Homo sapiens: one gene and its partners. The protein of the gene in region 2 interacts with the protein of the main gene of each other region in a biochemical or structural test. Each region holds a gene or a part of one and is shown on either strand. Other genes may lie near its edges. The genes, in order: LRRC7, CDH2 and GNA12.

The links.
Region 1: the proteins of CDH2 (region 2) and LRRC7 form a complex in vitro, tested with the Homo sapiens proteins (one study listed by BioGRID).
Region 3: the proteins of CDH2 (region 2) and GNA12 form a complex in vitro, tested with the Homo sapiens proteins (one study listed by BioGRID).

The regions. Positions count from the first base shown.
Region 1 is NC_000001.11:70,018,888-70,022,637, reverse strand, and holds part of LRRC7 (leucine-rich repeat-containing protein 7), read right to left. Parts: intron 1,634-3,750; coding exon 1,509-1,633; intron 1-1,508.
Region 2 is NC_000018.10:28,175,372-28,179,121, forward strand, and holds the start of CDH2 (cadherin-2 isoform 1 preproprotein), read right to left. Parts: upstream 1,760-3,750; 5' UTR 1,652-1,759; coding exon 1,592-1,651; intron 1-1,591. UniProt on the Homo sapiens protein: Calcium-dependent cell adhesion protein; preferentially mediates homotypic cell-cell adhesion by dimerization with a CDH2 chain from another cell. Cadherins may thus contribute to the sorting of heterogeneous cell types.
Region 3 is NC_000007.14:2,795,596-2,799,345, forward strand, and holds part of GNA12 (guanine nucleotide-binding protein subunit alpha-12), read right to left. Parts: intron 1-3,750. UniProt on the Homo sapiens protein: Guanine nucleotide-binding proteins (G proteins) are involved as modulators or transducers in various transmembrane signaling systems. Activates effector molecule RhoA by binding and activating RhoGEFs (ARHGEF12/LARG).

The DNA of each region.
Region 1 (3,750 bases), on a different chromosome or scaffold from region 2:
GTAGTTTGAGATTTTGAAACACACATTGTTTCATTAATACATAAATAAACCAAATGTAAATACAGAGAAAAAACACTCTAAAGTATAATGAACCTACTCTGATTATAAACAAACTTGAACACATAACACACAAACAGGGCTTCTAAATAACTGTAAGTATTTACTATATTTTACGTTTTCATTGACACATATACCAGAGTATATTAAATGCACTTTCTTCTTGCATTCTTTGAATACAGAATTTCAGGAAGAAGCATGCAATTTTTGGTAATTCAATGAAATATAAAGATGAATCAGAAGTCCGGTATAGAATGCATCATCCATTGGTTCTGGATTTAACATACAAAATCCGTAAAAGAACTGAAATGTTCTGAAGGTATGTTTTCAGTTTAGCATTATTTTTTCTAGGAATTCACAAGTTCAAAAAGATGTCTCTTTGGTTGTTAGACAGCACTAATCAACTATCTAGAGACATTTTTTTTAAAACCCAAATCTTTAACAAAATTGTTATTTTGGATTTGGGAATCCATTTTGGGTTCTCCGTAACGATATTGGTAGGCCTTGCCAGTAAGTGCTCATGTGCTGATTTAAGAAATAAAGTTTAGAAAATGTGGAAAGGAGAGGACAGAGACAAACATAACACACAATCTAGCTTTATTAATAGAACACATATGCAATTATAAAGGTAATTAGTCACTAAGAGTGAGAGCTGTTAGTAGCCATGATAGAAAAAGTACACATACAATGTTATAAAAAGTAAATGAGAGATTCAAGATGTTGCCATGCCAACATGAAAATGTGATGTTGAGAAAATCTAAATCAATTCTGATGATAATTAAAAATGTAAGTAATGGAGAAATACATATTTTAAAATTCAATCTTGTTACTTGACCTAGTAGTCCCTATAAAAGATCTTTTAAAACATACTTTGAGGTAAAAAAAATTGAAGTTATGTTCCCTAAGGAACATCACCTGCCATTAGGCACTAATCTTCCTTAAAATTTGTTCTCATATTTAAGGAAACTCATAAATTCTTCTTGAATAGCCCAAGGACACAGAACTTTTCAGAGATTTTAATGCCAATGTAACATATTAATCTGTTGGCCCTTCCAGAAATGTTTATTTTGGCCTTATTCAGTCTGCATGACGCTTTGCTCAGTGATTAAAAAAAATCATCGTAGTGTGTAGCATGTCAACAATGAAATAAGGTTCTTAGATGAAGTCTATCACACAGATTTTTTTTTCTACTTTCCCTCAGCTTGAATCTCTCTCATGCAGTTATTCTGTTGGATGAAGTGGCATTTCAAATTTGCTCACTCAGATTTGGGACATTAGTCTCATTCTGAAGCACACCAATGCTTCCAGAACTACCAGCATGCTGTAATGAAAGGTACCGCCATGAGACTTGAAGAAGTATCTGACTTTGTCCCAAAATCTATCTGAATAAGAAAAACGGACAAACAAAAAGATAAGGAGAAGAAAGAGGAAACAAAAGCTAAAAGGTTCACCTTAACTTTCCCAGCATTTTCGTCATCTTCTTTTTTGTCTTCAAATTCAAAGGCAACAGTCATGCGTTGTTGTCTCTGCTCTTCCCACAGTGTAGGGTTAAAGCTGTCACTGTCTGACTGGAAATCTACAGTTAGATTCCAAAGTATTATTGTTTTTTTAAAAAACAATTTTACACAAAGTATTTAATATAGTATGCAAAAATGGTGATAGATACTACAAACAAATACGGAAATAAAGAAGAAAGAAAGAAAAAAAGAAAGAGAAAGAAGGAAAGAGAAAAGAATAAAATTCCCTTGATATTTATTACATGGTCTTTTGTAATCTTAACTCAAATTCAGTATTCCTAAAATACTCAGGATCGGGAAATTTTCTAGTGTAGGAAATGGGGTCCCCATAGGACAATAATAATAATATAGAGAGTTAGACCAAGCATTTTAAAGCGTTATCTTTTTCAATCCTTACAACAACACAATGGTATTACTAATCTCATCCTTACTTTACTAATGAGTTTTAAGGGACTTGCTCAAAGTGTTAAGAGACTTCTCAGTGGCTAGTGCAGGATTCTGTTCCTGTCTAAATAGAATCCTTATTTGTAACTGCTAAACTCTATACAAATTTCTTTTATAAAAGTTACCACATAACATTGACTTTGCAATAAGGTATCTAAGATTGCAACCTTTTCCTTTTATTGTGGGGTCAATGAGGGGAGCTTGTTTTTTGGTAGAAAACGTGGAAAATTTAGTCTGTTGCAGTTAGTTTAAATATGTCAAATTAACAGGGAAATGGCTTATGAATCTTTTTTTTACATAAAATGTTGGCTAATGATAATATCTTCTTTGCAACATTATGGCAAAGATCACATGAAAATGCAATAAAAGTACTTAGTTAAGGCTAAATTCTTTTCCAAAGGAGGTCCTTTATCATATATGTCTTTCTTTGTTACAAGGGATTCTGAAAACTCATTTATTACACTCCTGCCTGGAAAACCAAAGGATGACTTAATTTAAGTTCGAGGAAACTTTTCAATTACCAACCTTTCTTTTCTCAAAGAAAAAAACAAAAACAAAAGCAAACTCAGCTAGGCTAATTCCTTAACACTACACCTTACCTAACTGAATCTACCTTGGGACAAATTAGGGATTCAATCTGTGAGATCATATCTCAGAAATGACCAGTGAATATGAGATACTTTTCACTTTTTCCCTATATTCTTTTGAAGTTAAATATTTTGATAATGTAGAGCTATTAAAATGAAAATATAAGTAAAGCTGCATGAATATAACATAATCCTTACTTAAGATGTCTCTTATAAAATGTGTAAACATGGTGGTTTTTCTTTTATCAATTCAAAAGGTTAATTTTATTGACTTATAAAAATACATATTAAAACAATCTTTTCTTTTCCTACTTCTGTAGACAAAATTTAAAGAAAAATATCCTAAAATATTCCAAAATGATTCACTTACATTTGGAGGTCAAAGACTAAAGTCATTTATTATAATTATCCCTGGAAATAAGAAATACATAAACAAATGGTTTCTTTTACAAGTTGGCCTCATTCACATGGATTGAGTAGATTTAATCCATGGCTGGATTAAAATAAGTTTACTCTTCCAAGAATTATTGTTACTCCATAACTATAGAAAATGTTCATATCAGCTTGTGTTGGCTTGGGCTAAGGAGCCTATGCTAAGTTTCAAATAGCAAAGGACAAAAAGCTCTTTTAACCTTTTTAAATGAATAATGTGATCATAGAAGAGAAGATTTAATTATTGAAAAAGGATTTAGGGATATTGGTTAGGGAAACTCAACTTGAAAAGAAAGAATGGTCTTATTTGCAAGTATCTATTTATGGTTGACTTAGACCATGAAATAATTTGAGTCCAGAGATCATTGGACTAGATGTTTAAATTGTGTTCATGCAATAAATGAACACAGCAACTAAACCAGTTCATTGAAACTTCCTTAGGATCTGACTGCTCTTAGCTCATTTCAATTAGCTGGTTACCAGATCTGCTTTACTAGTCATGTGTCTTGCAATCCATAAAGAGAAATAGTTGCTCCTAAAAATCAACATTATTTTTATGTAAGATATAAAGATGAAGAGTTTTGTTTTGGAAGCTTATCTAAAATAGAGTAGAAAATAAGACTTATGCTTAAAGTACATCCCCAAATGATATTTGTGTGTCATGTAATTATCTTTATAAGCTTGTCCATGTGCCAGTACTCCTGGCCAGAGAT
Region 2 (3,750 bases):
AGAAATCCAAGAAAGGGAAAAGGAACGCTGGGACCCTGGCCTGGGAGGCAGGGGTGGGGAGAGACAAAGTGAGAGAGCACGACCCGGGAGGAGAGCGTGGAGCCGGGCAGGGACAGGCGTGCCGCACCATGGCGCACCATGGACAGGGCTCCGCGCGGCGGCGGCCCACGACCGTCTAGGGGTTGCGGGAGAAAGCGCGAGAGACTGCGGAGGCCAGCCCCGTCCAGCCCCTGCCCCCGCCCCAGCAGCACTCACCCCCCGGCGGGCCGGAGCGCGCCAGGCCCTGACCCGTGAAGACCACGGAGCGGGGTAATCCACACCACCTGTCTCCACCCCCGGAGCAGGCACTTCCGAGCTGCGTCCGCACTTTTCGGGGCTGCCAGCTGGCAGTAGAGCACCTCTCCCCTTGCCCCGAGGGCGACAGGCAGGGGGACCCTCCGTGGATTTTCCTGCCCCGCGGCGAGGGTGGGCACGCCCCTTTCCCGCAACCTTCGAGGGACCCCACGGCAGGCGGAGACCGACTTGGGACCAGGGCACTGCACCCGCCCAGCTAGAGGGTCCCGGCCGAGGCTGTGTGAAGTGGCCTCCAGGCCTGGGCTGGCTGGTCGGGAGGAGCCTGGGGGCATCCTCGGGTTGGAGGCGGCGGAAAGTTGGGCTGCCCCCGGGCTGGGAACCCGCAGCGTGCAGTGGCGAGGGAACCTGCGCCCGGACTGGAGCAGGTGCTTCCTGCCGCGGAGGAGCCTCTTAGTAGAGATTAAATGAAAAGGCTCGCTGGCTCTCTCCCGAGGGTATGAAAAGTACGGAAGGCTCCAGGCAAAGGCGCCCCCGGGGCGCATATAGGGCACAGGCAGCCGGACAGAGAAAGGAGCAGCCGCGTAACGGAACTTCTCGCCCGGGGGAGATACTAGGCGTGAGAGGCCAGACTCGTTCTACAGGCAGGCGCTGACCGGCAGAGACTCCTCCGGGCAAGAGGGCCAGATTTTCTTTCCAGGTGGGACGAACACAGAATATTGTGAGGGCAAGAGAAGAAGAAAAGGAGGCAACTCCAGACTGGGATAAAGACAATAGGACAGTAGAGCCCTTGAGCACCGGGAGGCGCACGGGTGCAGGGTGGGGTAAGGTGGAGGCAAGTCCCGTAACTAAGACACCAGAGTGAGAATTCCTACTGTAAACTCGCGACCCATCCCTGCAGAAATAAACAAAAAAATTGGAGCAAAGTACTATGCGAGGGGCGAAAGGCACAGAAAACTGCAAAACCTGGGAGTTATCCTGCCTCACCCTCCTGCTGCCTGGGGACACCCCCCGCGAGCTTGCTCGGCCCCGAAGAAGGAGCAGAGGGGACCCGCAATCCAGCCCCTAGAGCCCCGCCAGGAAAGGCGCGAGAGACCTACTGGCCCCGGCAACCCTGCCCCGGCGCCCGGACGGAGCCCGATGCCTGCGCAGCTACCGGCCGCGCGGCGCGGCGCGGCGCGGCGTGGCACCTCCCTTCCCGGGTGCGCAGCCCGGCCCCGCAGCGGCGCGGGGAACAAAGGGACCCGGCGCCGCCCGCCCCACCCCGCCCGTGGCCCGGCCCGCGGGGACCGCCGCGTACCTGAAGCAGGGCCGCCAGCAGCGGCAGCAGGGTCCGCAGCGCTCCCGCTATCCGGCACATGGAGGCGGAGAGGGGCCGAGCGAAGAGCCGGAGGAGGCGGCGGCGGCGGCGGCGGCGGCGGAGGAGGAGGAGGCAGCGGCAGCACCAACAGCGGCGCGGAGAAACGGCTCCAGGCAGTTTCCACCCCCTTCCCTTCCCCTCCCCTCCCCACCCCCTTCTTCGCTGCTCTCCGCTCCCCGCCAATGGAGAGCGAGCTGATGACAAATAGCGGGCCGCGGAGTCCGCGGGACTCGCACCAGGAGTAATAAAACAGACCCAGAGATCAAGGAGCTGGGGAGGGGGCGGGGGAACAGGGAGGGAGAGCGTGTGAGCGTCTGCGAGTGTGTGGAGGCGGCTGCTGTGGCAGCGCAGGCGGCTCGGCTCCGGCCCGGAGCGCAGCGGAAGCCGCGAGGGATGCAGCGGCGGGGACCTTGGCCGGTGGAGGATGTGGAGGTGGAAGTGGAGCGGATGGCGCTCCCCAAGAGCTCCGCCACGCGAGGTTTCGGGCTCGTGGTTTTGCTTCCTCCGGGTCCCCGCTCCAGGGCCGCTCGGCGCGACGAAGACGCCGGGGACAGCGCCGCGGGGAGGGCGCTCCGGGTCGTGCGTGCTGCACCCACAAAGAGCAGCAGTCCCGCCACTCCGCGCCTCCGCTGCGTGGGGGCCGAGGGGCGCTTCTCGGCTCCTCTTTCCGGTCCCCCGGCGAGTTGGAGACTGTTCTCCGGCCTCGGCCGCAAGGGGGTGAGGCGAGGGGCCGGCGCGGTCTCTCCCGCCGCGGCTCCGTCCCGCGCAGCTGCTGCCGCAGCCGCCCCTGCTGCCCGCGCACCGGCACCCGCCCGCCGGTCCTCGCCCTGCGCCGCTCACTCGCGCGCGCCGCCCTCCGTCGCCGACCGCGCACCCCGCTCGGCCTCCGCTGCGCGACCTGGGCGAGCCGCCGCCGCTCTCCCCGCGCTCGCCCCACGCGCTGCCTGGCTGCGCGGCCCGCTCCCCTCTCCTATTCCTCCCGCCGCCGCCGCCGCCCTCGCCCCCGCCTCCCTCCTCCGCCGAGCCTCCCCGCCCGCGTCGTGGCCAATCGGAGGCCACCAAGCTGCGGCTGTAGCCGGCCGGATCCGCGGCAGCCGCCCGCCCCCGCCCCGCCGAAGCGCCCCGTATTTTGCTGCAGCCCGCGGGGGGTCGCCGGAGGGAAGCCTAGAGTGCGCCGAGCACCGCCCCGGCAGGTGGAGGGGCTGCGGGAAATAAAATAACTTGGGCAGGAACTTGATTGGTAGCAGGTTCATCTTTGGTCCGCGGTAGGGAATCTAATGGAGATGAAGAATGGTGGGGAAGGGGGGGCGGTGTCTCCTTGGGAGCCTAACGTACGCTTCTTTATTTTGTCATTCTTTGGAGATGGGTAATCTTTCCTGGCAGGGGCAGACACAGCAAACTAAGGACGCAGGCCAAGCTCATCCTAGCTATTGTTGTCTGAGGCGCTCGCCGGGAGCCACCTGCGGGCGGGGGAGGGCGGAGGCCGCGGCTCCTCTCTGGAGCTCGCACCTTCAGCTCCCACCCTTGAGGATGTACTGGAACAGCCCAAGTTTTTGTGTTCTTGTTTTGTTTTCTTTTGTCCCCTCTGGGAGTTTGAGAGTGCATGTTTGTTATTTTATTTGAAATCTCCCGTTTTCTATTTCTATTACTACCTGTTAGTGGTACTGTTCACATTTGGGGCCAACAGTTTCAGGGTACTTTTACCCTCTCCTACCACCCCTAACAACAATTTTTAAAAAAGAGAGAAACTAAAAGCCGGAACTTGAGAAAATAGGATTATATAAAAGATAAAATGACTGATACAGAATTCTCACCACGTAAAGGATTTCTGCTGGCTTCCTTTAAGGCATGAACTTCAAGTGCAACACAGTGAGAGACTTTACAAGTTTGAGTCACAAGCATTTGTGGAATGGAGCGGGGGATGGGGAGCAGTTTTTGTTTTTTCTAATTCTGGTGAGGTAATAAATTTTCCGGAACCTTTTTTAAGAAAGGTTTACAAGTAAATAGAAATATCCGTTTTATGTAAGCTTTTCAACACTTGGGAGATCGGTGAACTTCATTGCAGTTAATGAATATTTTCTGCCTTTATTGCTTGCTTT
Region 3 (3,750 bases), on a different chromosome or scaffold from region 2:
CTAGGCTGGGCAACAGAGCAAGACCCTGTTTCAAAAAAAAAAAAAGAAAAGAAAAAAGAAAAAAAAGAAAACAGATGTACATAAGCACCACAGAAAGAAGTCTGCTTTCTGCTATCATTCATTTGCAAAGCTACTGGAAAAAAGACAACTGGGCGGGGAGGAGGTGGCAACAATTTCAGAAAATTTCACTGGAAAATGAAGTGTATCAGTAAAAAAACAACTTTTTTTTTTTTTTTTTTCTTAGATGGAGTTTCACTCTTTTTGCCCTGGCCTGGAGTGCAATGGAGTGATCTCGGCTCACTGCAACCTCCGCCTCCCAGGTTCAAGCAATTCTCCTGCCTCAGCCTCCTAAGTAGCTAGGATTACAGGTACCTGCCACCAGGCCCGGCTAATTTTTTATTTTTAGCTGAGATTACAGACCACCACGGACTGCTAATTTTTGTATTTTTAGTAGAGAGGGGGGTTCCACCATGTTGTCCAGCCTGGTCTCGAACTCCTGACCTCAGCTGATCCGCCCGCCTCAGCCTCCCCGCCAAAAAAACAATGTTTTAACAACAACTATAGTAGCCTCCACCCCTTATCCGTGGCATAAGTTCCAAGACCCTCAGTGGATGTCTGAACGGTACCAAGCCCTACCTGTATTGTTTTTAAAGTTTAATTTAATTTATGAATTAGGCACAGTAAGAGATTAATAATAGCTAATAATAAAATACAACAATTATAACAATATACTGTCATGAAAGTTAAGTAAATATGGTCTCTCCTTCTGTCTCTCAAATGTGGTATCACCGTCCGCGCCTATTTTCCGTTGGCGGCTGGCTGTGGATAACGGGAGATGACTGTACTGCCAAGAGTACTACCAGCGCTACTATTGTCATCATCACTGAAATCTGGCAGCTCCTCTATTCCAAAAGATACAACTGCTTCTTCCAGCTTAAAACGGGTGGGAAAACATACAAATCCAGGCAGTCAGCAGTCATGAGACAGGAAAAGACTAAAATACGACAAGCCAAGTAGCCCGCCCACCAAAACGGGAGCCAGGGGATCATGTTCTAGATTTAACGTCACCATCGTTTGTGATGAGAAACTACTTTTCATTCTTTTGCTTGTTTCCTCATTGTTAAAGATAAAGTTAATGTTGTTCTGCCCCTTCTTACCTCATCAACAGGGTCAAAGGGATGAAGAAATAACTAACATAGTATTAGGGAATGCAGCCAGCCTTTGGAAAATATTCTCTCAGCAAAAACAGCACCCCCTGAGCAGTTAGGAGGTCTGTTCCACCATCCTTAGACTAATGTTTCGAAATCAGCAAGGCAGTGTTTATGAGAACTTCTGTGTTCTTCTGAGGGGCACACTGCATACTCTCTGGTATGGTCTACACTGGGGGTATACAGAGTGGTCAAGGGCCCTGAGAAGGCTATCAAGTACACATCTGTCCATCTGGAAAAGCCTTCTCATCTCAGAGCAATCTGAGGGACTCAGGCCAGCTGAGAGCAGCATCCCATCCTCCAGGACAGAGAAAACCAGGGTCACCTGCTCACTAGGCACTTATCTATGTTCCTTTTTTGGAGACTGGGTCTTGCTCTGTCACCCAGGCTGGAGTGCAGTGGCATGAACATGGCTCACTGCAATCTCGACCTTCTGGGCTCAAGTGATCCTTGCCCGTAGCCTCTCAAGGAGCTGGGACCACAGGCATGCCTCGTTACGCCCGGCTAATTTTAAGATTTTCGTAGAGTCAGGGTCTCACTATATTGCCCAGGCTAGTCTCAAACTCCTGAGCTCAACTGATCCTCTGGCCTTAGCCTTCCAAAGCACTAGGAATTACAGGTGTGAGCCACTGCATCCGGCCTTTTTTTTTTTTTCCTTTTTAAATAACAGTTTTACTGTGCTATAATCCATGTACCATATAACTCATCAATTTGAAGTGTACAACTTAATGATTTTTAGTTGGCACTTATCCTAAAAATCTTCATTTCTGACACCCAGGGCAGAGCAGATGAATCCATTCTGCCTCCTTCATCTCTCTCCTGCAGCATCAATTTGGTGCCTATAACTTCCACTTCTGCCTTGAACCACTGAGTCAGACGTAATGATGACCAAAGAGTAGTTGAAAGTCTCCTCCAGACCCAGCTGACCAGGACGGTCTGGTTAGAGATGCTCCCTGATTTTCCCCTCAGGACCTTGTCTGTCTGCCGTTGGAGACCATGCCTAGTTCTACCAATCCACAAACATTTGTTCAGTGTGTTTGTTTGTGGGGGAAACAAACTTTAAGAAGCAGTATCTGACCCCCAGAAACTCAGAGTCTGGCTAGAAAGACAAATGTATGGATAAAAAAAATACTTACCACCCACTCATGATTTTAAAAAACCTTTGCAAACTAGGAACAGAGAAATGCTTCAACTTGATAAAGAACACTGACAAAAAAACATACAGCTAACCTCATAATTAATGTGAAAGACTGAATGCTTTCCCTCCAACACTAGGAAAAGACAAAGATGCCTACTTCTGCTACTGCTATTCAACATGGTTCTGGAAGTTCTAGCCAGTGCGACAAGGTAGGAAAATGAAATAAAAGATCACACAGCTCAGGAAAAGCAGGGGGGAAAACAAATAGATTAGACACACAAAAAAAGAAAACACACAACTAAACCCATTTGCAGATAAAAAGATGATCTATGTTGAAAATCCCAAAGTAATCTACCAAAAAAACTCCTAGAATAAACAAATGAATCCAGAATAGTTGCAGGATATAATGTCAACACACGAAATTCAATTGTCTTTCTATATACTAGCAATGAACATGTGGAAAGTGAAATGAAAGATGTACTACTACTAACTATCACTAAAAAAACGAAACAGGTATAAATCTAACAAAATATGTGTAGGACTTATGTGCTGAAAACTGCAAAATGTTGAGGAAAGAAATTTTCAAAATCTAATAGATATACCACGGTCACGAATTAGAAGATTCAACACGGTACCAATATCCTTAAATTAATAAACAGGTTTAGCACAATTTCCATAAAATCCCAGCAGGATCTTTTGTAGATATAAATATGATTATTTGAAAATTTATATGAAAAAGCATTAAATTAGCTAAAGCAACTTTGAAAAAGAAAAGTGGGAACAATCAGTCTATCTGATTTTAAGACTTATTATATAGCTATGATAATCAAGACTGTGTGGTATTGGTGAGGTGACAGACCCACAGATCAATGGAACATAACAGAGAACCCAGGGATAGCCCCTGATACAGCTAGGTAATTTTTGTAAAAGTGCAAAAGCAATTAAAAAGAGGAAGCCTGGTCTTTTCAACAAACGCTGTTGGAGGAAGTGGACTTCCACAGGTAAAGAAAATTGGGGGGAGCGGGGGAGGGGGTGGGGAAGAACCTTGACCTAAACCTCACAGCTTATACAAAATCAAATCAAAATGTAGAACTATATATAACATAGGAGAATATCTTCAGGATGTAGGGTGTGCTCAAAGTTCTTAGATGTGACTCCAAATACATGATTCACACGAGAAAAATTATCAATAAATTGAACTTGATGAAAACGAAAATATTTTGCTCCGCCAAAGACCCTCTTAAGAGGCTGAAAAGAAGCTATGAACTGGGAGAAAATATTTGCCAACCACACATCTGCCATATCTGACAAAGGACTCATTTAGAATATACAAGGACATTCAAAACTCAACAGTTAGGCCAGGCACAGTAGCTCACGCCTGTAATCCCAACACTTTGTGAGGCT